Linked DNA regions of Homo sapiens. The protein of the gene in region 3 purifies or fractionates together with the protein of the main gene of each other region. This does not show direct contact. Each region holds a gene or a part of one and is shown on either strand. Other genes may lie near its edges. The genes, in order: FSTL1, TMEM132A, DNASE2B, GALNT7, TOR3A, TCF25 and HEXA.

Region 1 (3,500 bases), on a different chromosome or scaffold from region 3:
TAAACATGAAATGCAAATATGAAGACAGAGTGGGGTGGTTCTCTTTCCCACTCTCTTCCTGCTTTACCCATGAGGACTCCATATCATAGCACGACCTGTAGGGTCATCAGGCTGAGATCAAATCTGGTCATCTTGTTTTTGGCCATCTGACATTTCTTGTTCTAGTAACAAGATTTCATTTATTCTATAGAGAAGAAGGAAAAATCACAGGAACCTATCTCCCCTCTGGACCAATGATCAGAACCACAGAATTTATAACTTATCAAATCAAAAGGTTAGTGCATTCTTACCAGCTCACTGAGGAAACTGAGGTCCAGAAAAAAGAAGAGACAGGGCCAACTCACCCTCCTAGTTAGTCGAATGAGCATATTGGTAGGCTGGGATATCCTAAGCCCTGCTTGGCTGCCCTTGTCGCCATCCTTGGGAATACTGATTTGCCTCAACTTCTCAGAATAAATAAAAACAAATTAATGTTTGGATCTTGAAAGTTTTTTATGAAGATGCTTCTTCCCCTGGCTTCGGTCTAAGGCACCCTTGCTCCTCTGGCAGATAGTGGACTGCTGGAAGCTAGGGGGGCCAACTATGGGCTGCATCTAGTATGTGGCAGGGTGGGGGCATCTGGGTTATTTCAGCCCCTGCACCAGGAAGAACCCCAAACTCCTTCCACCTATGAAGTGGTGGGACTACTGAAAAATAATTACAAAAGCTTAATACCTAGTCAAGAAAATAAAATATTAAAAAACAATAATATAATGATAATAATTGAAGAATAAAGTCAACTTGCCAAAAAAAAGTGTTTTACAGAGAAATAGCACCTTTGGTAAAAAGTATTTTTAAAATTTGGTTAGGTCGCTAAGGGGCTCAAAGTATACAAGTATCTGCATCATTTGGGTGTACCCTCCCAGAAACTCCATCCAAGTCTGAGGGACACTGGGTTAACTAGCAGTATGGCTATGTATCTAGAGGCAGTTATTGGGACCAAGAGATGCGTGGATGCTGGAGGTCTGTCATGCTGACGGCAATGGAAAGAGGCTGGAAGCAGAGAGCGTTCCTCTCCGTGGAGCTTCCCAAACCTCTCCTCCGGGGACACCCTGCTAAGTTCTCTCTGGCATCGTGTGCACTCCCTGCAGCCTGCTGACAGATGCAGTAAACTCAAAAGAGGTTCAGATTTGGGTCTGTTCCTCTTTCAATCGTGATGCAGTTTCCTTACTAGCCTCCAGCCCCAGAGCACCATTTACAGTTTCTCTTAAAGCACTCCTAGAAATGAAGGCTGTGGCCCTTCCCTTCCTAGCCAGCCACCTTCATATCCTTTATTGCAAAACAAATAAACAAAATAAAACTCATTGCTATATAAGCAAATACTGGTGATTTGGCGACTGTAGCAGACACTTGTGTATACTGAACTCAGCGCTGAAGTGGAGAAGATGCTGGGATCCAGACACTGGTCTGTGCCTCCTCATTAGATCTCTTTGGTGCTCACTCTCTTGGTCTTTTCAGCTGTTTCCTTTGAGATGCAAGAGAAAATAGGCGTCATGGAAATATTAAACAACTGTTGGAATTTATCTGTTCCTCAAGACTATATAGCATTGGCATTTACAAGCTTATGCTGAATTTTAGTTGTTTACTTGTCGGGCTCCTCCACGGACAATGAACAATTTGAGAACAAGAACTATGGCCTATTCATGACATGGTCATGCAGGGGCTGTTTACTGAATTAAGCTGACTCCATTTGGACTCCTATGAAACAAGCAGATCAGACATTATGGTTCCCATTTTAAGGATGAAGAAAATGATGTTAAATGGAAATGCTACAAGATGTTCTTAATCCAACAAGTCCAAAGAAGTGTTAAGTACAACAGGTTCTGGAGGCAGACTGCCTGAGCTTCAACCATGGCTGTGCTACTTTTTGGGTGACCTTGGGCATATTATGAAATCTTCTGTGTCTCAATGTCTTCAACTGCAAAACCACAGTAATAAAGTACCATCTCTTACAACAGTGCCTGGCACAAAATGGCCAATAAGGACATAAGAAGATGCTCAACATCATTAATCACACGGGAAATGCAAATCAAAACCACTTGACACCCGCTAGGACAGCTAAAATAAAAAATAGCAATAACAAAACCGTTGGTGAGTATGTGAAGAAATTGGAACTCTATGGTGAAGATGTACAGTGGTGCAGTAGCTTTGGAAACCAGTTTGGCCATTTCTCCAAAGGTTAAACATGGAGTCACCGTATGACCCAGCAATTCCACTTCTAGGTAAATACCCAAGAGAGCTGACAACATGTGTCCACACAAAAACTTGTGCGAAAATGTTCCTAACAGCTTTATTTATCAGAGCCCCCAAATTGAAACAACCTAAATATCCATTAAATGATGAATGGATAACACAACATGTGGTATATTCGTATCATGGAATATTACTCAGCCATAAATAGGAAAGAAGTACTGATTCATGCTGTAAGAATGAACCTTGAAAACATTATGCTAAGTCAAAGACAGAAAAGGCTATACTGTTGTATGATACCACTGTAATATGTCCAGAACAGGCAAATTTATAGTTAGAAAGTAGATTAGTGGCTGCAAAGGGCTGGAGGAAGATGAGAATGGAGGGTTACTTCTAATGGGTATGGGATTTCTTTCTGGGATAATGAAAATGTTCTGGAATTAAGATAGTAGTGAGATGATTGACAATCTTAGGAATATACACTTTAAAGGGGTGAATTTTATGGTATATGAATCATATCTCAATTAAAGAAATAAATTTTTAAAACCTGACAACATTGCCTGATATCTAGCAGACACTGGTGTTCCATCCATCGCCCCTTTGTGTTTAATGTCTTGGTGTACACTGGCATGACTTCCTACCTACTGCCAGCACCTGCATCTCTGCCTGAGGCCTTTCTCTGGCTGCTGGAGCCCACTCTGTCCACACACACTGATAGGCCACAAATGCCAGGGAATTAACATTTCCCAGTAGCAGCCCTCAGCCAATGGCTAATGGGAGTTCTTGTAGAAACAGCCCAGCTTCATCCCCACTCAGGCACTGTTATTCCATTCCCAGAGATCCCCAATAGGATTAAGAGTCACTTGTTAACAGTGGTAACATGCCTGAATACACACTCTTCATTACTTCCTTCTCTTTCTGGACTCATTTCCCAAATCTCCCTCTGGTGTTTCCTGGCATTGCTTCCCAAATAAACTATGTGTACTTGCATCCTTGCCTCAGCATCTGCTCTGAGGGGACTCACATCAAACACAGAAACTTAAACATATTAGCTACTATAATTCACTCTGTACTGTCTGATAACTGTACTGTCTGATATTCTAGACGAAAGTAATTCCTATGAAGTTTTTTTCTCTTTCATGGGATTGAACTCATTTGGAGACTCAAGACTGGTGAAATTTGAAAAGCAAAAGACTAGAAGCTTTTGCTTCTGCTTAAACAACCGACATGAGATTTCTATACTATCAGTGACAATGATGACAAAATGCACA
Region 2 (3,500 bases), on a different chromosome or scaffold from region 3:
GTCAGCGCTGAGCGGCCCCAGCCTGCCCAGGGCCCAGCTGCTGGAGACCCGCAGCTCGTCCCCGGCGGCTCCTAATCACCAGCAGCTCCTGTTTCTCAAACGCAGACATCCGCCCCTCTTGGGGTCAGGCCCTTCCACCTGCAGGCGAGCCGCCCCAGCCCACTCCCGACTGGCGCTGTGCCTCGATCACCGCTCTTGCTCCCAAGTGGACCGCAGGGGAGACGCTCTCTTACGGGGACCCTGGGGGCGCTCACTCTCTGAAGGGCCTGGAAGCTAGATTCCAGAGGCGTGGGCCACCTCTCCCTGGGTTTTGGGGAGCCCCCTCCGAGGGTGTTCATTTCCTGAGCTCTGTGTCATCTTAGGCTCTGAGGGTACGACCAGCATAGACAGACCGCAGCTTCAAGGGGCTGACATTCTCGGGGGAGGAGCGTGGAAAGGATGGACAGGCAACATTAACCAGTACTGACGTAGATTAGGAAGTGGAGGGTGCTACGGGAGAAGTGAGGCAGGGAAGGAGGAGAGGGATGCGGAAGTCAGCAATTTCACAGAAAGCGATCATTGGCTGGGCGGCCCAGGGTGGAGGTGGGCAGAAGGAACTGCAAGCAACAGGGCAGTTTTTCTGACCCCGACTTGGGCCCATGGCTGTGTCCCCTGCGCCCTCTCCGTCCCAGTGTGACTCGCCAAGGCCTGCCAGCTTCCTCAGGCCTCCACTCACCCTTCAGCAGGGCCAGGTACCCTCCAGCCGCGGACCTGCTCGAGGGTGGTGTCGGTGAGCTCGATACGCAGCGGTAGCAGGGGGGCCCACACGGTCAGCCGCAGCGAGGCGCGGAGCCGGCGCCACCAGAAGTCCACTCGCACCCCCCGGGCGCCCCGGCTCTCCTTGCCAGCCACGAACACGGCATCACAGGCCTCAGACACCTATGGAAGGGCAGAGGGCAGGTGGGCGGGCTAAGCCACTAAAGACAGGTGTGAGGCTGGGCCGGGTGGGTGGCTCATGCCTGTAGTCCCAGCACTCTGAGAGGCCGAGGTGGGTGGATCGCTTGAGTCCAGGAGTTTGAGACCAGCCTGGGCAACATGGCAAAACTCCCTCTCTACAAAAAATACAATAAATCAGCCGGGTGTGGTGGCACATGCCTGTAGTCCTAGCTACTGGGGAGGCTGAGGTGGGAGGATCCCTTGAGCCTGGGTAGCTGAGACTGCAGTGAGCCGGACTGTACCATTGCACTCCAGCCTGGGGACAGAGTGAGACTCTGTTTCAAAATAAATAGATTAAAAAAAAAAAAAAGGCATGGGCCAGAAGAGAGCAGCCCTGACCTCAGGCCGTAGGACGGGCTCCCACTGAGTTCAGCTCTGTGTGTCACTGGAATGCATGTTGCAGCAGGATTGTTGGTTAAGCCCCTGTTCTTTGTTTAAGATTTTACTGTAGGGGCCATTCCTTGAGGTTCCCTGGGGCTCAGTCAGGGGAACTGGCCATTGCATACCAGTCTTCCTCCTGGCAGAGCAGGGGTGTGAACCCAAAACTTTGGCTCCTTATTCATGCTGGCCTTTGACATTGCTCTTGGAGCCACCTGGCAACCAGCTACAGCCAGGTAGGCAGAGGTGGGACAAAGCAGATCTCCCACCAAGGCCCTCCAGCAGGAACCACACACATTTGAGCAAAGGACCACAAGTGGGGAAAGGCACCTTCCCCCTTCAGGTGGCTGGGATTTGCATACATGCAGACTCCATGCTTCCCCTCTTAGAACTTCAAGATAGAGGAAGTTGCTCTACCACCCTCCCTTTTATTTCACTTCACAATCACCGGTAATAATAATAATAATAATTTTTACCATTGTATAATTATTACATCATATTATAACAGCAATAACTGCCATTGTTTCAGCCCCTGCTATCTGCTAAATACTGTCTTAAAGTGCTTTTAATTCTTACAACAACCCGAAGATATGTTCTCATTTTAAAGTTTAGGTAACGAGGCTCAGAGAGGTTAAGAGACCAGCCCATGATCACAAAGCTGGTTGACAACAAAGATGTGTTTCAAACTAAAACTTTCTGATCCCAGAGTATGTGCTCTCGACTCTCTCAGGCCAGCGCACTTGCCAGTGCAATAATGAGCGTGAAAGTGTCTAAGGTCGGGGGGCTGTTAGGGTTACTTGACTCGGGAGAGAGGTGGCTGGAACAAAAGAAGTTGAAGCTGTGGTTCCTCCCATGAGGTTTCTCGTCTCAAGAAGAAGCTGTTCTCTTGGGGACCCACATGAGGAAGGAGGAAAGGTGTGTGTGCGTAACTGTGCCCACACAAATGCAGACTCACATGAGCTGGGCACCTGCCACTCACCTGCAGGACCTGTGTGTTGGCAGACTCGCAGCCGACATGCTCTGTCACCTCCACCAAGGCCCCCCCGCCGTCCACAGTGACAAGGCGCACGGGGACATGCTGGGGCACTCCAGTCAGTGGTGCTGTATTCACCAGCTCCTCAGCCTGGGGGTGGAGGAGGGGCTCAGCCCCAGGCCCCTCAGCTCATGGGGCTCCTGGGACTTGGCCTCCAGCCTTCCCAGGCAGAGATGGAGGTCTCCTTACCTTGGCCAGTGGGATAAGGGCTCTGATGTCCCGCTCAGACACCAGGATTTCCCACACCATTTTGTCCTTCTCTGCTTCAGGGGCCTGGCCTGGGTACTCCAGCTGCCACGTGACGGGGCGAGTGACCGCTACGCCCCCACCAGTGCTATTCTCCACCACAAAGTCCACCCATAGGAACTCAGACAGTTCAAGGGGACTGCTGGCCAAAGGAGACAGAGAAGCCAAATGCTTGCTAGCTGCCAGGCATGGCCTCAGCACTTCCTGCATTCATGATTATCCCCATTTTACACAGGAGGAAACTGAGGCACAGAGGTTACATAGCTCACTTAAGACCACACAGCAAAAAGTAGCGGGGCTGGGATCTAAACCCAAGCATCCTCGCTCTAGACCCCAAACTCTGACCCACTCTTGGCCTCTCTAAGATCCATGAAGCCATTTAACCACCTCCCACCTGGCAAGGTGGCTCACTCCCCTGCCTGCCCGGGCCCGCTTCCCCCAGACTTCCGCTTTCCACAGCCACTGAGGTGGCATGCGGGAGATTCACTTCCAGGTCCCAGGACCAGACACTTGACCCTCTGAATGATAAGCTTCCTTTGATCAAACAAAAACCTATGTGCTGGGAACCGTCCTGGGTGCCTGATATGTAGCACTGTATTTTATTTTCAAAAATGCTAAGGGATGCATTATTATTCCTATTTCACAAGTGAAGAAACTGAGGCTTGGGTAGGGGAATGTTAACTGGCTTGCCCAAGGTTTTGCCCATCCCAAAAGCATCAGAACCAGAATTCGAACTGGGGCTACTGAGTCCATGGCCTTGACCCAGGCTCAGGGCATGAATAAGAAGAGTTCACAACCGCAGAACTGCAGCTGGGCTTTTTGGGGGAATGTGAACGGCCCAGAGAAAGGATCATTTGGTGGAAGCAGG
Region 3 (3,500 bases):
ATGCAGCTTATGACAGGGGCTCAAAGTACCTTCCACCTCTCCTGAAGCCCAAACCCAAATCTCATATCCAGTCAGCCAACTGCATGGTCTGGGCCTTGGCCTTCTCTCCACTGTAGCCACATGGATCATGGAAGCAACAGAAAGAGCCACTCTCAATGTATATGGACTTCCACTTCAGGGACTCCACCCACCAGTATAACCAAGGTCTTAGAACATATCCAATCAGATTTTTATTTTCTTCTCTGGGGAGGAGCAAAGATAAGAGTGAAGAAAGAGGCAAAGAGCTTGAGCAAATCCCTTTCCTTAGAGGCCTTCCATGAAACAGAAATGAGAGATATATTAAAGTGTGTAATACAGTTACTGCCACAGGAAAACAGTCAATAAATGTTAGTAATTCATAATCATTTTGTCTGTTAGGTTTACTTTTTATAAGTTACCTAAAAGACAAAACAAGGAAAGTGGAGAGACTGGGTTAGAGTACCTGTACCTAGACTCTACAACTAGAAGCTGGAGGAAGAGTGAGCAACTAATGAATGACACCAAGAGTGTTTTGGGAAGGACATTACAACAGCTATATGAAGCATATGCCTCTAAGGTATGTTATATAGTTAATTGTTCACTTGAATAATATAAAATGCATAAAACTGAATCCAAAGCCTTCACCAGAGTTTTCTGTTCACCCACCCAACCCCCAATCCTAGCACCTTGAAGTGAGCTAGCTCAGGACCAGCTCAAGACAACTATCTGAGTCAATCTGACTAAGACCTGAGGAAACATGTCATCATACTCTACAGCAATGCCAAATTTACTTGGCACCATGTCCAGTGGTGTCACTAGGCAAGGTGTGAATTAATTGTATATTGAAGTCTTCTGGCTGCCAAAATGTCTGTCAGTTTGCTTATTCATCTAATAGAAATAGGGAGAGGAGCCTCTGCTGTTACAGGGCAATACAGAACTGTGATTAACATGCTATGAGTTATGGATTGTTTATATCATGGTGTTGATCAGTGGTGGTGAGCTCAGTAAAGGGTTCTACTTGATCTTCCTTTTCATTAATTGTTTTCAAAATGATATGTTGAAAACTAGGACTCTAGTTCAAGGCCCTAGAACTAACTTGTCTGGATGGAGATTATCCCTGCTATATCTGGACTTTATCAGGCAATGAGCTAATCAGCCAAAGAGACACAGGTAAGTAGGCCTGCTGGCTTATTATGGGCATGCTCCCAATATTCTAGGCATCATCTGTTGCTTAGTTTCAAGATACTGCTTTCCAACCAGGAGTGGCAAGTAAAATCAAGCCATGATTAACATCCAATTATACTCATGTATGCATTTCCTAACAATAACTTATAGACAAGTAAATATATAACATGACTCTGCTCCTATAATATGCTGGACTGTATGCTGGGCCTTTACATATGTCAAGTAATTTAATGCCCACAACAATCCTGTTTTAGCCTCTGGCACTGCACATGTGTATCTGAGTATTTACTCAAAATACACACGGAACTGTCATGGTGTGTGGTAATATTCATGTTATTTACCTGCCATTAAGACTAGCCTTCAGAGCCAAGCTACAAAGTTAAAGCTTATCTGTAGGCTATTTGAGAACATGTGATGTGCCAAGCACTTTTCTAGATGCTTTTCAAAATTATTTGTCTCAACAAACCTGCTTTGAATAAACAGACGACAGCTGACCCTTGAACCATGCTGGGGTAGGGGTGCCGGCCCTCATGCCGTCAAAAATTTATGTACAACTTTTGACTTCCTAAAAATTTATCTACTAACAGCCTATTGGATGCCTTACTGATAACATCAGTTTGACTGGATGCCTTACTGATAACATCAATAGTCGAATAACATGTAATTTTTATGTTATATATCTTATATACTATATTCTTACAATAAAGTAAGCTAGAGAAAGGAAAATGTTATTAAGAGAATCATTAAGGAAGAGAGAATATATTCACTCTTCATTAAGTGGAAATGGATCATCATAAGTGTCTTCATCCTTGTCATCTTCCTGTTGAGTCAGCTGAGCAGAAGGAAGAAGGGGAAGGGCTGGTCTTGCTATCTCGGGGGTGGCAGAGATGGGAGAGGTGGGGAAGGTGGAAGGGGAAGCAAGAGAGGCAGGCATACTCAGTGTAACTTTCACATGAAAATACATAATGAATTCTATCTATTTGCTTTTTCATTTCTCCAAAAATGTTTCTATACAGTAGTAATCATTTTTTCACCATTTGCTTTAGTTTCAGTGCCCGTATCACAGAAGGGTTCATGTTGTAAAAGAAGTTAAAAGCAATCTTTATATTTTTTTCTTTTGAGACAGGATCTCATTCGACACCCAGGCTGCAGTGCAGTGGCACCATAAGAGCTATCTGTTGCCTCGACCTCCCAGGCCCAGGTGACCCTCCCACCTCAGCCTCTGGAGTAGCTGGGACTACAGGCATGCACCACCATGCCTGGCTAATTTTTTTTTTTTTTTTTTTTGGCGGAGGGGGTGGGTAAAGATAGGGTTTCATGATGTTACCCAGGCTAGTCTCAAACTCCTGGACTCAAGCAATCCACCCATATTGGCCTCTGAAGTGCTGGGATTATACACATGAGACACTGCACCCAGCCTAAAAGCAGCCTTGAATGATCAGACTGCGTCTAATATTGATCTGTGTTCTTGCACCACCTCTTCTATGTCTTCTTGCTCATCATCTGGCTCTGGTTCCATTGAGTTATGTTCTGTTAATTTCTCTAGTGTGGTGTCTATTAGCTTTTGAATTTCTCCAGGAATCATATCTTGAAATCCATCACCCCCAACCTTTCTTGCCATATCCACAATCTCTTTCATGACTTTCTTGATTGACTCTGTCATAAATCCTGTGAAGTCATGCTCAACATCTGAACACAGATTTTTCCAGCAGGAATGTATTGTTTTGGGCTTGATGGCTTTCATGGCTTTTCCTATAACAGAAATGGCATCTTCAACGCTGTAATCCTTTCATGTGTTCTATCATGTGTTCCATAGCACTGACAATCCTTTCCAGAGAGCATCATATGTAATGAGTCTTAAAGGTTCTTATGAACCTGATTTAGAGGCTGAATCAGAGACATTATGTTTGGGGGCAGGTGGACAACTTTGACACCTTTGGTGTTGAACTCATGGGACTTTTAGTGCCCGGTGGCACTATCCAATACCAAAAGAACTTTAAAAGGCAGTTCCTTACTGGCAAGGTACCTTCTAACTTTAGAGACAAAGCATCACTGGAACCAATTTAGAAAAAGGGTTTTGTTGCCCAGGCCTTCTTATTGTACAACTGGCAGCTGGTATGTATCTTTTCCCTTCAAGGCTCAAGAGTTAGCAGCTTTATAGATAGGTGTAGTCCTGATTATCAACCCAACTGCATTTGCACAAAACAGTACAGTTAGTCTGTCCCTTCCTGCCTTAAATCCTGATGCTTGCTTCTCTTTCTTACCAATAAGTGTCCTTTGTGGCACTTTTTTCCAGA
Region 4 (4,103 bases), on a different chromosome or scaffold from region 3:
TGGAGGTTGAGGTGAGCCAAGATCGCACCACTGCACTCTACTCCAGCCTGGGTGACAGAGTGAGAGACTCCGTCTCAAAAAAAAAAAAAAAAAAAAAAAAAAAAAAAAAAAAAAAAGAAAAGAAAAAAAACCCCAAAAAACTTAGGATAAAATCTTAAAACGTTTTGTTCGACTTAAATTTAAATTAGCAGTTTAGGATATAGTACACTGATAATGTAATTACATACATTCTGCTATAAAGGCATAGACATCTTTATTGGGAGATATGGGCAGAAAAATTATTTCCTCAGGGTGGGGCATTTGGCTAAACACTTGCCAATATCCTTTACTGTGTAATTTAGGTAACACAGGCAGAAAAGGCGTTTGAAAAGCAGAAATCAAGTGGCAAATATCAGATCTGAGGGACGCAATGAGGGTGGAGTTGAAATCCGTGGTCCTTGGATTTGAAACTTACCAGCCCGTGAACAAGGTTGGTATTGCTTTTGGCATAAGACGACAGCCTTTCTTTTCATTAGCTCAGGAGGAATACTGGCTTTCCAAGTGAGCTCCTCCAATCCAGTGATATTTGCACATCTCACCTGGGCCTTTCGGTTACAAATTCACCACCTTAAGGAGCCGTGTGAAAAAGCAAGAACAATCAATAAGAAGGAAAAAAAAAAACCCTTCAGCTATAAATCAGCCACGTGGAGCTGCTGCAGCAGCAGCGGTAGTCCCACTTCCTGGTTGGCTTCCTGAAAGCCTCTCGACAAGGGGCTCAGGGAAGTGGGTCTAAGGGAGAGGTGCAGACGAGAGCGACTCCAGGTCCAACGGAGGGGGCGGCGGGCCACGGGATCCCGGAGGGCACAGGCGTTAAGGACGGAGTTATTGTCCATAATTACAATAAAAGTTTGGGGATCTGAAAGCTTTAAGGAGCTGAGCTGCAGGGCAAAGGCTAAGAACCGGACTCGGGAAAAGTGCAAGTTAGTTACAAGGTAGCAGGGACTGTGAAGGGGGCTCGCGTGGAGAGCAGGGGACTGCGGATCTGGAAGGGGGCAGGTAGAGAGGAAGGCAGCCTGGCAGAGCGAGGCACACGGGTCAGTCGGAGCTCTGCGGTGGCCGCCAGAGGGGAGGGGGCCACGGGGAGGAGCGGAGGGAAGAGCCCGGGGAAAGGTGTAGCCGAGGGGAGTTCCGGATCTGGAGCTGGAAAGGGCAGGCAGCGGAGAGGGCGGCAGCCGTAGCGGTAGGGGTGGGGGAAAGAGGGGGAGGAGAGCCGGAGGAGGGGGAAGGAGGGAGGGGAGAGCGGTGGCGGCGGCTGCGCCGGGCTGTGAGTCTCTCGCCGCCGGAGGAAGATGAGGCTGAAGATTGGGTTCATCTTACGCAGTTTGCTGGTGGTGGGAAGCTTCCTGGGGCTAGTGGTCCTCTGGTCTTCCCTGACCCCGCGGCCGGACGACCCAAGCCCGCTGAGCAGGATGAGGGTGAGTGACCCGCCCGGCCCCCTCCGGCGGCAGCGACCGGCAACTTGTTTTGTTTGCCCGCGTGTGGAGGGAGCAGGGGCGGCGGGGTCGCGGCACGGCGTGGGCACCGCAGCTCCGCAGGTGGTGCTGGCGCAGCGCGGGCCGAGGGGGTGCCGAGCCCCGCGCACTCCGACCTCCCTGGCCGCCGCCGGCCCGCCCCCTCGCCGCCCCTTCCTCCGCTCTTCCCCGCCCCGGGCTCCGTCGCCGACACCCGCGCTGCCGCGGCAGCGGCTCGGGCGGCCGCTCTCCGCGCCGGGACTGCGGGCGGAGCGGGCGGAGAGCCGGGTCCGGGGGGCTGCGGCCGCCCGGCGTCCCGCTCTGGGGGGCCGGGACCGCAGCGCTCACGGCCCGGGGACGCGGGGTTGGTCCAGGCTGCGGCCTGTGGCGCGTGCAGGCCTGAAGGAGGCGAGATGCCGATGCCGCCACCGCTGGTCCGGTGGACCAGGCCCCTTGGTCCAGCCTCCCCTCCCGCAGCCGCCCGTCTGGGGGTGTTCGCAGCCCCGGGCTCCCCCGGCCCGCCCGCCGGGGAGTGGGAGGGCGATGGCGCCCCGCCTCCGGCTCTTACGGAGAGCGCGCCTCCCCCTCAACTCCGGCGGCGGGGAGCCGGGGTGCGATGCGCGGCCGAGGCCTCGCCCGGACCGCCGGTCCCCCTCGCGTCCCTGGGCGAGGGAGGGGCGGTTGGCCGGAGATGGCGGAGGGGCGTCCCCGCCCCGCCTGCCCGCCGCCCCCAGCCCTCAGCGCCTGGGGAAGCCCCTGCTGTGGCAGTGCTCGGGCGCTATCCGGGGGAAGAGGAGCAGTTCCTCTTCCTTGGCTGCGGCAGGGCTGCTTGGGCCGGAAAACTAACTTGTGTCGGCGCCCGGCCGCCCCGCGCCGGCTGCCGGCTAGCTCAGGCCGACGCCGAGGGGAGCGGCGGCGCGGAGCTCGCGGCGGCTCCGCTGGGACGCATTTGTCTGCCGCCCAGGGCGCGAGTGTTAGCGCTGACATTCCTTGGATTTGGAGGGTTTAGTCAGGCGCCTCGGAACATTAGTTACCCGGAGCCGCGCCGCGCGGGGAAGGGACCGCGGGCACTGCGGCTTCCCTGACCCGGCAGCGGGCGGCGCGCACCGGCCTCGCCCCCGACCCTGACCTGCTTCCCCCCGGATGAACCGTTGCACCACCTGCTTCCTCCTCCCCGCTGGGACAGCCAACTGGGCCGGCTGCCAGTGGGGGTAGGAGAGGGTATGAGGGGCTCACGACCGCCGAGGCGGCGGGGCTGCAGGAGGAGTCGAGTCGCTCTCTCTGTTGTAAAGTGCTTTTTGCAAGTGTGATGAGCATCGCTTCTATGTCATGTTTATTTAACTTTCCTTCTGGAAAGTTAGCATCAAGAAGTTGGGCAAAAAGGCTTGTGGCGTCCTTTCAAGAGTAAGAATCCTAGGAGGAGATCCCATTATCAGCTCTTCGCCTATATCATGAGATTAGATGTAATCTGGAAGTTTTAGTATTTGAAGTCTCTACAGCAGTGGAATCCCTTTGTAATATCTGGGATAGATTCCCATCTAAGTCATCTAAATTGATGGTAATAAAAAGTATCAGTTTTCCTTTTCAGTACATTTGCGGTTTTAAGCTTCTCAGCTCATGGAGTGATGGTGATCTTTTTATAATTTTGCTCTCAATATGACTTATTGACAAAGGATAACTGAATATTGCAATTGAGGATATTTGTTTTAAGTCATCAAATGGCTTTTTACATGTAGCTAGAAATGTTTAACCCCCTATTTTCTGGTAGAGAAACTGACGAAAAACTGACAAAACTAGCTAGGTTCAGAATGTCCCGCCCTTCTGATGATCTTTTAAAGAGGTGGCGGAACATCAGCATCACTTGCCAACTCGTGGAATATTTTATTAGTGCAAACAAAGGATGGGCCATAATGCCCATTTCAGTACTATATGGTGATGATAAAGAAGGTGATGATATCTTGATTTTTTGTTTGTTTCAGTGTACTTGATAAAGTTTCTCAGTGGATCCAGTGTAATTTCTGTCATTTGTCAAAAACAAAAGGTAGATTTTAAAGACTTAACATAATTAACATTAAGAGGAATGCTTAGGTATCAGAAGAGCAAGAAAGACCCTTTTATTGGCTTCCCAGGTAAATAGTAATACAAGCAATTTAAAGTGTAGCTTATAAATAATAAGAGCATAAATAAGGGATTATTGCCTTCCTTTAATAAAGACTAACCTAGGAGCTTTTAAGGTACAGTGCTAGAAGGACAAATCCTGTAGGGAGGATTCTGACTCCTGAGTTTCTCCTCCCCCTTGTGGTTCTTTTACTTCGATGACTATTGCATATATTCCACCCATGGTGAGATCTCTGCTTCTCTTTAATGCTGATCTACACATGGACTTTTTTGGATCCCTTTAAATAGCCTGAACGATCCAGTTTACCAGGTATGGGTTCTGCCTCTACTCCAGCAAGCTTGTACCTGTGGCTCCATTCACCCTGTGCCACTTTTTGTCTTGAACTATGAATATGTCATACACTAAATTCTGTTACAGCCTTGACAACTTGGGATGGTCCTTTCTCATCTGCACTATTTCCTTGTTTTAGGTCTGTCCACCTGTGGAGTCAAGAC
Region 5 (3,500 bases), about 95 Mb from region 3:
GAAATGGCCGTGTTGGACTTGATGGGAGACTATGCCGTTCTCTAACCAGGCTTGCCTTGGGAATTTGTTTCAAAAAATCTGTCACCCAGATTGGAGTGCAGTGGCCCGATCTCAGCTCACTGCAACCCCCACCTCCTGGGTTCAAGCGATTCTCCCACCTCAGCCTCCCGAGTAGCTGGGACTACAGGCACATGTCACCACGCCCAGCTAATTTTTATATTTTTTGTAGAGATGGGGTTTCACTATGTTGCCCAGGCTGGTCTTGAACTCCTGGACTCAAGGGACCCGGCCGCCTTGGCCTCCCAAAGTGCTGGGATTACAGGCGTGAGCTACCACAGCTGGCTGCTGCTTTCTGTACCAGAGTTTGTGCTGTTTTTTCTTGAGGAAAGGTTCTGAACCTGGGGGCGTGTGGAAGCCTCCACTGCCAGCTAGTATCTTCCCCTCCCCCAGCCCTCCTGACTATTGTTCCCCAGAACCCACCTGAGAAACAGAAAGATAGTCCATGGAGACTCAGCCCTGTGGCCCTCAGGGGCCCGGCGTTCTAAGTGTGGCCCAAGGACCTCCAGCAGCCCTGGGTGCAGCTTCTCCGCTTCATCGAAGATGAACAGGGTCTGGTGGCAGAGCTGCTGCGTCTCCCGGATCTGGCTCATCAGCTGCTCCTGCACGGGATATAGGGAGCAGCTGGGGAAGTGGTGACTCCTTCCACCTCCGGCCTTGAGGGCGTGGTTTCCCCTGGGCATGTGCAATGGACCCCCTGGGGCTGGGTTCCCCACCCCCCGCCCCCCGCCAGAACCTATCAAATCCAAGCTCTTGGGGAGGGCCTAGGACATTTGCATCTGACCAGCTCCCAGGTGATTCTCAAGCACCCTGAGGGTTGAAAGCTAAACAAGGTGAAGCCAGCTTGGGGACTAGGAGACAGCCTAGAAAGGAGTGGGGAGAAGCCCTTCTGCCCTTGAGAAGGGGCCCCTGCTCCAGCCCTGCTCTCTCCTCTCCAGGACTACATCCCATCCAGGAGCTAACAATGTCCACACACCCGCAAACTTTCATTACTTCTACAACAAAAACATCCAGGCGCAACTTCCCTGTTTAAGCTCAGGGTCTATTCCCAGGGGGTGGATAGGAGTTGAGCTTTCATACAGGGGTGATGGGCAAAGAGAGGCTCATGTGCCCAGAGGCAGCCACAGTCCCCTGCCCTGAACTCCCGGGTGCAGAGCGCCCACTGGCACCCTGGCTGGGCCGAGATCTCAGGGGAGCAAGCCTGCTGAAGGACTGACTGGGCCTAACCAACATCCAACTTGGCTCCTGCAAGCTGTGGAGGGTTCCTTGCCCCAGGCAAGACAGTAAACCCTCAAGTGAAAAGATGGTTCTTTGCAATGTTCATCGAAATGGGCAGGGAATATATTATTCAGGGCCAGCTCCCACTCCAGAGCCCACACTCCCTGTCTACTGGGTGCACCTTTGTGGGGGAAAGTGTGAGGTGCAGGGCTATGCACATGCCAGTTTTCACAGCAGGGAAGCTGGGGCTGCAGCAGTCTTGCCACAGTCTAAGCCAGACAGTTCTGCCCGGAAAGGCCCAGCTCAGCCTGCCCCTGCCCTCCAAAGCCATATGGAAACTGCCAGGAGACGCGGGCAGCCTCTGTCCTCAGACGCTGACATAATCTTCCCAGGTGAACACATTCCAAATATTAAAACAAAGCCAAAGACAGGTGCAGTCAATTCTGTCAGGCTCTTCTGGTATGTTTTCAATACTACATGGCTGAATTAGTAGAAGAAACCCAAAATGGCAGAACAGCCAAGGAAATTTCTGTCCATCCACTTGCTGGTATATAATAAGCTGATACGGGAAGACATGAAAAAATCAGGTAAGATAGGATAGGCCTGTTTTCTTTTTTTTTTTTTTTTTTGAGATGGAGTCTTGCTCTGTTGCCCAGGCTGGAGTGCAGCGGCACGATCTCGGCTCACTGCAAGCTCCGCCTCCCGGGTTCACGCCATTCTCCGGCCTCAGCCTCCCGAGTAGCTGAGACTACAGGTGCCCGCCACCACGCCCAGCTAAGTTTTTGTATTTTTAGTAGAGACGGGGTTTCACCGTGTTAGCCAGGATGGTCTCGATCTCCTGACCTCGTGATCCACCCACCTAGGCTTCCCAAAGTGCTGGGATTACAGGCGTGAGCCACCATGTCCGGCCAATAGGCCTGTTTAAATTTTAAAAAGGCAGGATATACAACTTTCTGTCCAACGTAGTTACAATGACAAAGAGCCTGGGGAAAGGTTCCGCACCAAAGGCAGCACATAAAATGCTACCTCTCCTTAGCTGACAAGGGTGTGTCCGTGTGGAGAGTCTGACAGTTTTTGCTTTTCTCTGTTCTACACTGCAGTCTGTGACATTTCACTACTTCTACAACAAAAATCAACATGCAGCGTCCCTGCTTAAGCGCAGTGTCCAGCCTCTCGAGTGTGGCTGTTTGGGGACAGAGCAGGGGGTGGTGTTTGGAACGCCAGTCTCTTCCACATGCTAAGGGCCTCTGTGAGGAGTGGACGGAGTGGCTCTGTCACAGGTTCTGCCACCTGTCCCCACCTCCCCAGGCTTCTCCAGAGCCCATTTCCTTGCAAGGAAGGGCTGGCAGAAGGGTCTCCCTCCCAGCACAGAGGCCTCACCCCAGCCCTGGTCGGCCTCACCTTGTACAGGTCCACATATTTGGGGTGAGGAAAGTGGAACGTGGCGATGAACATCCTGACACAGTCACTCATCAGCCCGTCCCGATACAGGTTCTCCACCAGCATCCGTGCCACGAAGTTCTTGCCTGTGCCAGACCAGCCGTGGAACGACAGAGCAAGGGCCTTTTCTGGCTGGGGCGTCTCTAAGTAGCCCCTCACTGTTCTTAGGACCAGCTGCTGGACCAAATGCTGGCCATGCAGCCGCACATTCAGGTCCCACTCTAAGCCTAAGGACAGGAAAGAGGTAGTCACAGCAAAAGGCACACACAGGCCCATCCACCACAACAGCCAACAGCCAAGAAACCAAGCAACTCTGAATCTCTCTCGGGTGGAATCAGTTACTCCTCCTGTTTGGCCTTAGAATAAGAAGCCAGAGGGCAGACTTTGTAGCAGAAGGGATTCAAGGACTACTTTCTTTTTTTTTTTTTTTTTGAGATGGAGTCTTGCTCTGTCACCAGGCTGGAGTGCAGTGGCGCAATCTCAGCTCACTGCAACCTCCGCCTCCCTGGTTCAAGCGATTCTCCTGCCTCAGCCTCCCGAGTGGCTGGGATTACAGGTGCCCACCACCATACCCAGCTAATTTTTGTATTTTTAGTAGAGACGGGTTTCACCAGGTTGGCTAGGCTGGTCTTGAACTCCTGACCTCGAGATCCGCCCACCTCGGCCTCCCAAAGTGCTGGGATTACAGGCGTGAGCCATTGCGCCCAGCCTCAAGGACTACTTTTTGAAGAGTTTGGGAAATCAAGATGGGACTCAGGGAGAGTGGAATCACCCTTCCTAAAGAT
Region 6 (3,500 bases), on a different chromosome or scaffold from region 3:
CTCAGCCGTTCCTGGGGACCGTCGCAGTAGTGCCGTGTGATGCAGGCCCAGGACTCTGGGGCTTCTCACTGCTGCCCTTGCCTCCTGCGGCTCAGTGCAGGCGAGCAGCTCAGATTCCCGGCCCCCGTGCAGCCCCCGGACGGCCCCCACACGGCCCCGGACGGCCCCCGCGCAGCCCCAGACAGCCCCGGACCTGGACAGTCCCCGTACAGCCCCGGTGCAACCCTGGACAGCCCTCATGCAGCCCCTGGACAGCTCCCCTTGCAGCCCCGGACGGCCCCCGCGCAGCCCCAGACAGCCCCCGGGCGGCCCTCACGCAGCCGCCGGACAGCTCCCCTTGCAACCCCGGACAGCCTCCGCAGAGCTCCCCGTCATCTCCCTGTGGGAAAAGCAGGCTGCTGCTTTCCATTCCTCTTTCTTGGGGCTTAGTGGGGAGTTAGGTGGCCCCTGGCCTGGGCATGTCAGGTTCTGAGTTCTTGCTTTAAGTCATATAATTGGTTCAGCTTAGCAATAATAACTAGCCTATTTTGAGTTGGGGGGACGTTGTGAGTGTCGACCCGGTAATTCCCCCGTTTTTGTTTTTGTTTTTGGAGTCGGAATCTCACTCTGTCGCCTAAGCTAGAGTGCATTGGCGCAGTCTCGGCCCGGGTTCAAGCGATTCGCCTGCCTCAGCCTTCCGAGTAACTGGAATTACAGGCACACGCCACCACACCCGGCTAATTTTTGTATTTTTATTAGAGACCAGGTTTTGCCACGTTGGCCAGGCTGGTCTTGAACTCCTGATATCAAGTGATCCTCCTGCCTCAGCCTCCCAAAGTGGTGGGATTACAGGCGTGAGCCACTGCGCCCAGCCTCCGCTGGTTTTAAATGTCTGAAAAAAAGGCATGCCTGGGAGCTGGGGCCTTGCTGAGTGCCTTTCCTCCAGGGCTGTCCTCCCTTCTGGTAGGTTCTGCTCCAGACGAGCCCTTACCACGTTGACTCACTCCTGCAGCTCAGCGATGCCTGCCGCTTTCAAGAGGATCAGGAGATGGCTCGAGACCTCGTAGGTAAGGCAGAGCCCCCACCCCATTCCCCTCAGCTGTGGGAGCACCTCAAGCTATCAAGACAGATGCGATGGTGTAAGATGACAGGGGTTGCCAGGATATCCATGACAGCTTTATTGAGATACAACCTACGTAGCACAAAACTTACCCATTTAAAGTTTTTGTTTGTTGGTGTTTAATATATGCCACAGCCTCCCGAGTAGCTGGGACTACAGGCGCCCGCCACCAGACCTGGCTAATTTTTTGTATTTTTAGTAGAGATGGGGTTTCACCGTGTTGGCCAGGATGGTCTCGATCTCCTGACCTTGTGATCCACCCACCTCAGCCTCCCAAAGTGCTGGGATTACAGGCATGAGCCACCACGCCCCGCCCTCTGGCTTTTATTTACAATGAAGTTTTCAAGGTTCATCCTCACTGTAGCGTCGATCAGAACGTCGTTCGTTTTTATGGCTTAGTAATACTCCACTGTGTGGACGGACCACATGTTGTGTATCCATCATTAGTTGACGGCCGTGTGGGCTGTTGTAAATAATAGTGCTTACGTCAGCATGCACACGCAGTCTTAGGTGGACACATCTGTGCTGCACACATGGACGCCTGGTTCTGTCAGGACGTGGCAGCAGTTGTGCCTCATGGTGTTGAAAGTGTTACCATGTCAAGCTCACAAGTTCTGTGGTTGAAATAAATGCAGCGTGGCATCCAGGGTGCCCAGGGGCATGTCTGCCCTCTCAGTGTCCAGGACTCTAGTTTCGTGACCTTCCGTCCAGACCTTTCCTTGTTGTCCATTATCAGAGGAGGGGCCGTGGTTGCTGTGTGTGGCCATGACACCCTCCCCTGGCGTCCCTGTGCCCACAGAGAGAGCGCTGTACAGCATGGAATGTGCGTTCCACCCCCTGTTCAGTCTCACCAGTGGGGCCTGCCGGCTGGATTACCGCAGACCCGAGAACAGGTGAGTGCAGCTGCCCTGGAGGTGACGCAGCTCCCCTTCCCTTCTCCTGCGAGTGAGGCTGGGGGAGGTGCAGTGGGCACCTCATGGCTGCCCTCCAGGGTGGACCAGGGCCCACAGGTCCAGAGTGACCCACCTTCCTCTCTCTGGGCTTAAGGATAGAGGGATGGGATTGTCTCAGCCCAGGTTTACCTTTGTCTGTGGACATGCCTGATGCTACTGTGGAGGTCAGAGTGGGAGGTCTGCTGAGCCCAGGAGTTCAAGTCCAGCCTGGGCACCATAGTGAGACCCCCATCTCTTAAAAAAATAAAAATAAAAATAAATGTTTGTGTTAGAAGTGAGCCTGGCTGGGCACAGTGGTTCACGCCTGTAATCCCAGCACTTTGGGAGGCCGAGGTGGGAGGGTTGCTTGAGCCCAGGTGTCAAGACCAGTCTGAGCACCGTGGCAACATGCAGTCTCAAAACAGCATTTTTTTTTTTTTTTTTTTTTTGAGACGGAGTCTCACTCTGTCACCCAGGCCGGAGTGCAGGGGCGCGATCTCGGCTCACTGCAAGCTCCACCTCCCGGGTTCAAGCCATTCTCCTGCCTCAGGCTCCCGAGTAGCTGGGCCTACAGGCACGTGCCACAACGCCTGGCTAATTTTTTGTATTTTCTAGTAGAGACGAGGTTTCACTGTGTTGGCCAGGATGGTCTCCATCTCCTGACCTTGCGATCCACCCGCCTCGGCCTTCCAAAATGCTGGGATTACAGGCGTGAGCCACCGCGCCCGGCCACTACAGAACATTTTAAAAACTAGCTGCGCCTGGTGGCGCGTGCCTGTGGTCCCAGCTACTTGGGAGGTTGAGGCGAGAGTATCACTCAAGTGAGCCCAGGAGGTCGAGGCTGCAGTGAGCTGAGATGGTACCAGTGCACTCCAGCCTGGGCAGCAGAGTGAGACCTTGTCTCTCAAAAAAAAAAAAAGAAGAAGAAGAAGAAGTGAGCCTGAGAAACCAGATCTCCACAGTGGGCTCTGCAATTGCATTTCCTTCTATGTTTGGCTGAGAAAACCCATCCCTGGCAAGTTTAGAAGCTTTGGAAGGCTTTGCAGGTTTGACCTTAAATCAGTGAGGAGCTCAGAGTCAGCCTGACCCTCGCTCCCCTGTGCTGAGCGACCGCATGTGGAGGTCTCTCTTCTTTCAGATACTTCTGCCCCTAAAGCCATCCCTCTGGCATCAGGCCTCGCTGGTCAGACCTAGACTGGCTTCCGCCAGGCCTTCCCGCAGCCTGTCCTGTGGGCCCTTTGTGGAGCAGACCAGCTTCTGTCCGCTGTCCTGCCTCTCCTGTGTGCAGTGCCCTGTTTCTCTGGCCGCCCTGGGTTGTCTGCAGTGTGGGATCCGCTCCTACCCTCTCAGCCCTCCTGGCAAGCCAAGGTCCGCTGACCCGTTCTGCACAGATTGTCTGCACTGTGTGCTGGGTCTGAATTTCCTCCACTGGTTTTCTTTATGTTAGTTTTGTCTCTTCCAATGAAATT
Region 7 (3,500 bases), on a different chromosome or scaffold from region 3:
GCAGCAGGTGTTAGACAGCAAGGCTTGTCATCCAACTGGAAGAGCAGATAGGAAAGCCGAAATCCAGTGTGCTGGAGCTTCAAGTTAAGACCTTGGATTCTCATGTTGCAGTCCAGAGAGGATTAATATGTTTTCTCTTTGGGAGTTTGAACTTAAAACTCTTCAGGTCCAGACTCAGCCTTTCTCAGCCTGTGTCAACAGCCCACCTGCTTCACATAACTTTGCTTGGCCACACTTTCCACATGTAGGGCTTCTGAGATCCTTGCTTATTTGATTTTTCAGGTGAAAAGAGGAAGTTATAGGGGGCCAGGTGACTAATCCCCAGGCATTAGGCTTTCAGGATGTTGAAAGATTAATCTTCATTTTCTCTTGGGATTCAGGAAGTCCAACCCAGAGATCCAGGACTTTATGAGGAAGAAAGGCTTCGGTGAGGACTTCAAGCAGCTGGAGTCCTTCTACATCCAGACGTGAGGAAGGAAGGAGGGTGGGTGGGGTCCCTTGGGGGTCCTCCTGTGGGGTCCTCCCTTTCCATACCGAGTCAGGCCCTGCTTGGCCACTGTCTGGTCCCTGCAGGGTTCCCTTGTCCTTTGTCCCATCCTTTCAGATTTGGAGTGGTTGGTTTTCAGCCCAGGGGAAAGACACTGCTTAATGAGGAATAGGCCCCTGGCCAGGCTCAACCCCTAGAGCACTGGCACAAACAGTCTAGAACCCATCTGAGCTAAGCAGACACTTACTAGACACTCCTCTCCTCTCCAGGCTGCTGGACATCGTCTCTTCTTATGGCAAGGGCTATGTGGTGTGGCAGGAGGTGTTTGATAATAAAGTAAAGGTGAGCCGGGGCAGAGAAGAGAAGAAGCCACCAGCAGTGCCTCCCTCTGGTCTCCCCAGCTCCTCCCTGCCTCTACAGAGACTGATCCTCCTGGTTTGGATTGGGCTTTAATGGTCGGAGCACTCTCCTTTTCTCTCTAGAAAGGCCACAGAGTGCTGGGTGCAGTGGCTCACGCCTGTAATCCAAGCACTTTGGTAGGCCAAGGCAGGGGGATTGCTTGAGCCTAGGAGTTCAAGACCAGCCTGGCCAACATAGCAAAACCCTCATCTCTACAAAAAATACAAAAATCAGGAGGCTGAGGTTGGGGTACTGCTTGAGCCCAGGAGGCAGAGGTTGCTGTGAGCCAAGATGTGCCTCTGCACTCAACCCTGGGCAACAGAGTGAGACCCTGCCTCAAAAAAACCAAAGGCCGCTGTGGTATGAGCCCTGGGTTTATGTGTCAGAGTTTCTATCTTCCCTCACTACAAACTTAATTAAGAACTATTTCTGCTGTTAGGTTACTTGGATAGGCTGGATTTTTCTTCCTAAATCATAGATGAGGGTCTTCTGGGTCTGTGGGACCAAGGTTACCTTCTCCTTTATTGTTGATCAGTAAGATCCCAGTCTCCTGTCACATGCAAGGACTCTTCAGGAACCTTGTCCCGTCCCCAGAAACATCTGGAGACTTTTGGACATGGCAGCTCCTGGGTCCCACTGCTTGCCTCCCTCAGCTCACAGCTGGTATTACTAGCTCTGTGTGGACAGGGAGGCTGCAGAGGGACGGGGAGGAGAGCTGCAGGGAGGCCTCTTAGGGCCCTGGATTCCTTGGCCTCTGTCCTGAGGTGTGAGCTCAATGGTCAGGAGTCACAGAGACATACTTTGCTGCTGGGGAACAGAGGGAGCACATACCTGTTGTCCCATGTTGCCTGTGTATGAATAAGGCCCAGGAATCTCCTCAGCTTTGTGTCCTTACTGCCATTTGACCTTTTATAACAGATTCAGCCAGACACAATCATACAGGTGTGGCGAGAGGATATTCCAGTGAACTATATGAAGGAGCTGGAACTGGTCACCAAGGCCGGCTTCCGGGCCCTTCTCTCTGCCCCCTGGTACCTGAACCGTATATCCTATGGCCCTGACTGGAAGGATTTCTACATAGTGGAACCCCTGGCATTTGAAGGTGAAAGCAGAGAGCTCTCCTTGCTAACCAAAGGAGGCTGGGTTGGGGCACAGGATGGGAGGCAGGAAGGTCTGGGCCAGACATTTCCAGTTAGTAAATGAAACAACTTAGCTGGGGTGAGGGCCACATTGGGAAGGTGGTTGAGAGGGACCCTGGAGTTACCCCACCATCACCAGACTGTTGTTGCTTGTTTTCCCTCAGGTACCCCTGAGCAGAAGGCTCTGGTGATTGGTGGAGAGGCTTGTATGTGGGGAGAATATGTGGACAACACAAACCTGGTCCCCAGGCTCTGGTAAGGGTTTTCGGGGGGGAGGTGGAGGGTTGGGCCTGAGAGCAGGAGTTCTCCCTTAGAGACCCAATCCCATCTAGCCACCTCTGGACTAGTACCCTTCTTTCAGGCCTGAGAGAGAGCAGGCCGTGCAACGAGCCTTCTGAAGATTTGTGTGCAATATTCACTCTCCACATGACTTCCGTCTATATCCCTCCAGCTGCCCTTTGGTATGTGGGATAGGGATTGTTAACCTTACTTCCCAGAGAGATAATGAGGCCTGGAGAACATAGGTGAGTTGCTCAAGACCCAGCACAAGCATCCATGATTCCTGTAATAAGGCTTCCCTCTGCTGTTTTCACTGCAGCCTTACCAAGTATGGTTGGGTGTGCAAAGTTTACATTTTAAGGACCTCTGCTGCTGCCACTGTCATTGTGGTTAATGATGGCTTTAAGGTTTATTCTTATTCCCATATCTTTGAGAGAGGAAGAGAGTGGGATTGCTACCCACATTTTAATGAAGGTGGAGCTGAGCCGTAGAACTCTCTGGGAGCCATCCAACCTGGCTGTGGCTCATAACAAGGTATTGATCACTTCCTTTGGCCTGAGTGAGTCCAGGGTGCCTAGACAAGAGGTAGCAGCCTGTGGATGTCCAGCACCTTTGCAGGGAATACAGGGCCCAATCTGGCACATGCCCCTTTTCCTCCAGGCCCAGAGCAGGGGCTGTTGCCGAAAGGCTGTGGAGCAACAAGTTGACATCTGACCTGACATTTGCCTATGAACGTTTGTCACACTTCCGCTGTGAATTGCTGAGGTAAGCAAGCTGTGGGGCCTTCGCAAGGCGGAGCAGGCCAGATCCAGGGCTGGGGAACCCCTTAGAGAGAGGAAGACAATAATTAACAATAGCTAACACTTACAGAGGCTTATAGTCAGCCCTCATCCACGGATTCAACCAACTGCGATAAAAAGTATTCAGGAAAAAAAAAATACAACAAAAAATGGTACAAATAAAAAATACTGTATAACAACTATTTACATAGCATTTATATTGTATTAGGTATAAGTAATCTAAGATCATTTCAAGTATATGGGAAGTTGTACATTGGTTATATGCAAATACTATGTCATTTTTATATAAGGGACTTGAGCATCCTTGGATTTTGGTATCCACGGGGGTCCTGAAACAAATCCCCTGTGGATACTGAGGGACAACTGTATTTTGTGGCAAACACTGTGCTAAGTTTG

The links.
Region 1: the proteins of DNASE2B (region 3) and FSTL1 purify together in Homo sapiens (affinity purification with mass spectrometry; 3 studies listed by BioGRID and IntAct, with this or other methods). This does not show direct contact.
Region 2: the proteins of DNASE2B (region 3) and TMEM132A purify together in Homo sapiens (affinity purification with mass spectrometry; 3 studies listed by BioGRID and IntAct, with this or other methods). This does not show direct contact.
Region 4: the proteins of DNASE2B (region 3) and GALNT7 purify together in Homo sapiens (affinity purification with mass spectrometry; 2 studies listed by BioGRID and IntAct, with this or other methods). This does not show direct contact.
Region 5: the proteins of DNASE2B (region 3) and TOR3A purify together in Homo sapiens (affinity purification with mass spectrometry; 3 studies listed by BioGRID and IntAct, with this or other methods). This does not show direct contact.
Region 6: the proteins of DNASE2B (region 3) and TCF25 purify together in Homo sapiens (co-immunoprecipitation; one large-scale study listed by IntAct). This does not show direct contact.
Region 7: the proteins of DNASE2B (region 3) and HEXA purify together in Homo sapiens (co-immunoprecipitation; one large-scale study listed by IntAct). This does not show direct contact.

What each region holds. Positions count from the first base shown.
Region 1 is NC_000003.12:120,395,493-120,398,992, forward strand, and holds part of FSTL1 (follistatin-related protein 1 precursor), read right to left. Parts: intron 1,505-3,500; coding exon 1,460-1,504; 3' UTR 1-1,459.
Region 2 is NC_000011.10:60,930,960-60,934,459, reverse strand, and holds part of TMEM132A (transmembrane protein 132A isoform b precursor), read right to left. Parts: intron 2,775-3,500; coding exon of another isoform or gene 2,772-2,774; coding exon 2,576-2,771; intron 2,477-2,575; coding exon 2,333-2,476; intron 919-2,332; coding exon 716-918; intron 1-715. UniProt on the Homo sapiens protein: May play a role in embryonic and postnatal development of the brain. Increased resistance to cell death induced by serum starvation in cultured cells. Regulates cAMP-induced GFAP gene expression via STAT3 phosphorylation.
Region 3 is NC_000001.11:84,401,484-84,404,983, forward strand, and holds part of DNASE2B (deoxyribonuclease-2-beta isoform 1 precursor), read left to right. Parts: intron 1-416; exon of another isoform or gene 417-417; coding exon 418-595; intron 596-3,500. UniProt on the Homo sapiens protein: Hydrolyzes DNA under acidic conditions. Does not require divalent cations for activity. Participates in the degradation of nuclear DNA during lens cell differentiation.
Region 4 is NC_000004.12:173,167,508-173,171,610, forward strand, and holds the start of GALNT7 (N-acetylgalactosaminyltransferase 7), read left to right. Parts: upstream 1-1,303; 5' UTR 1,304-1,328; coding exon 1,329-1,454; exon of another isoform or gene 1,455-2,145; intron 2,146-4,103. UniProt on the Homo sapiens protein: Glycopeptide transferase involved in O-linked oligosaccharide biosynthesis, which catalyzes the transfer of an N-acetyl-D-galactosamine residue to an already glycosylated peptide.
Region 5 is NC_000001.11:179,085,070-179,088,569, reverse strand, and holds part of TOR3A (torsin-3A precursor), read right to left. Parts: intron 2,943-3,500; coding exon 2,677-2,942; intron 660-2,676; coding exon 481-659; intron 1-480.
Region 6 is NC_000016.10:89,894,092-89,897,591, forward strand, and holds part of TCF25 (ribosome quality control complex subunit TCF25), read left to right. Parts: intron 1-946; coding exon 947-1,046; intron 1,047-1,898; coding exon 1,899-1,992; intron 1,993-3,500. UniProt on the Homo sapiens protein: Component of the ribosome quality control complex (RQC), a ribosome-associated complex that mediates ubiquitination and extraction of incompletely synthesized nascent chains for proteasomal degradation.
Region 7 is NC_000015.10:72,345,015-72,348,514, reverse strand, and holds part of HEXA (beta-hexosaminidase subunit alpha isoform 2 preproprotein), read left to right. Parts: intron 1-380; coding exon 381-467; intron 468-756; coding exon 757-829; intron 830-1,804; coding exon 1,805-1,988; intron 1,989-2,189; coding exon 2,190-2,280; intron 2,281-2,964; coding exon 2,965-3,069; exon of another isoform or gene 3,070-3,286; intron 3,287-3,500. UniProt on the Homo sapiens protein: Hydrolyzes the non-reducing end N-acetyl-D-hexosamine and/or sulfated N-acetyl-D-hexosamine of glycoconjugates, such as the oligosaccharide moieties from proteins and neutral glycolipids, or from certain mucopolysaccharides.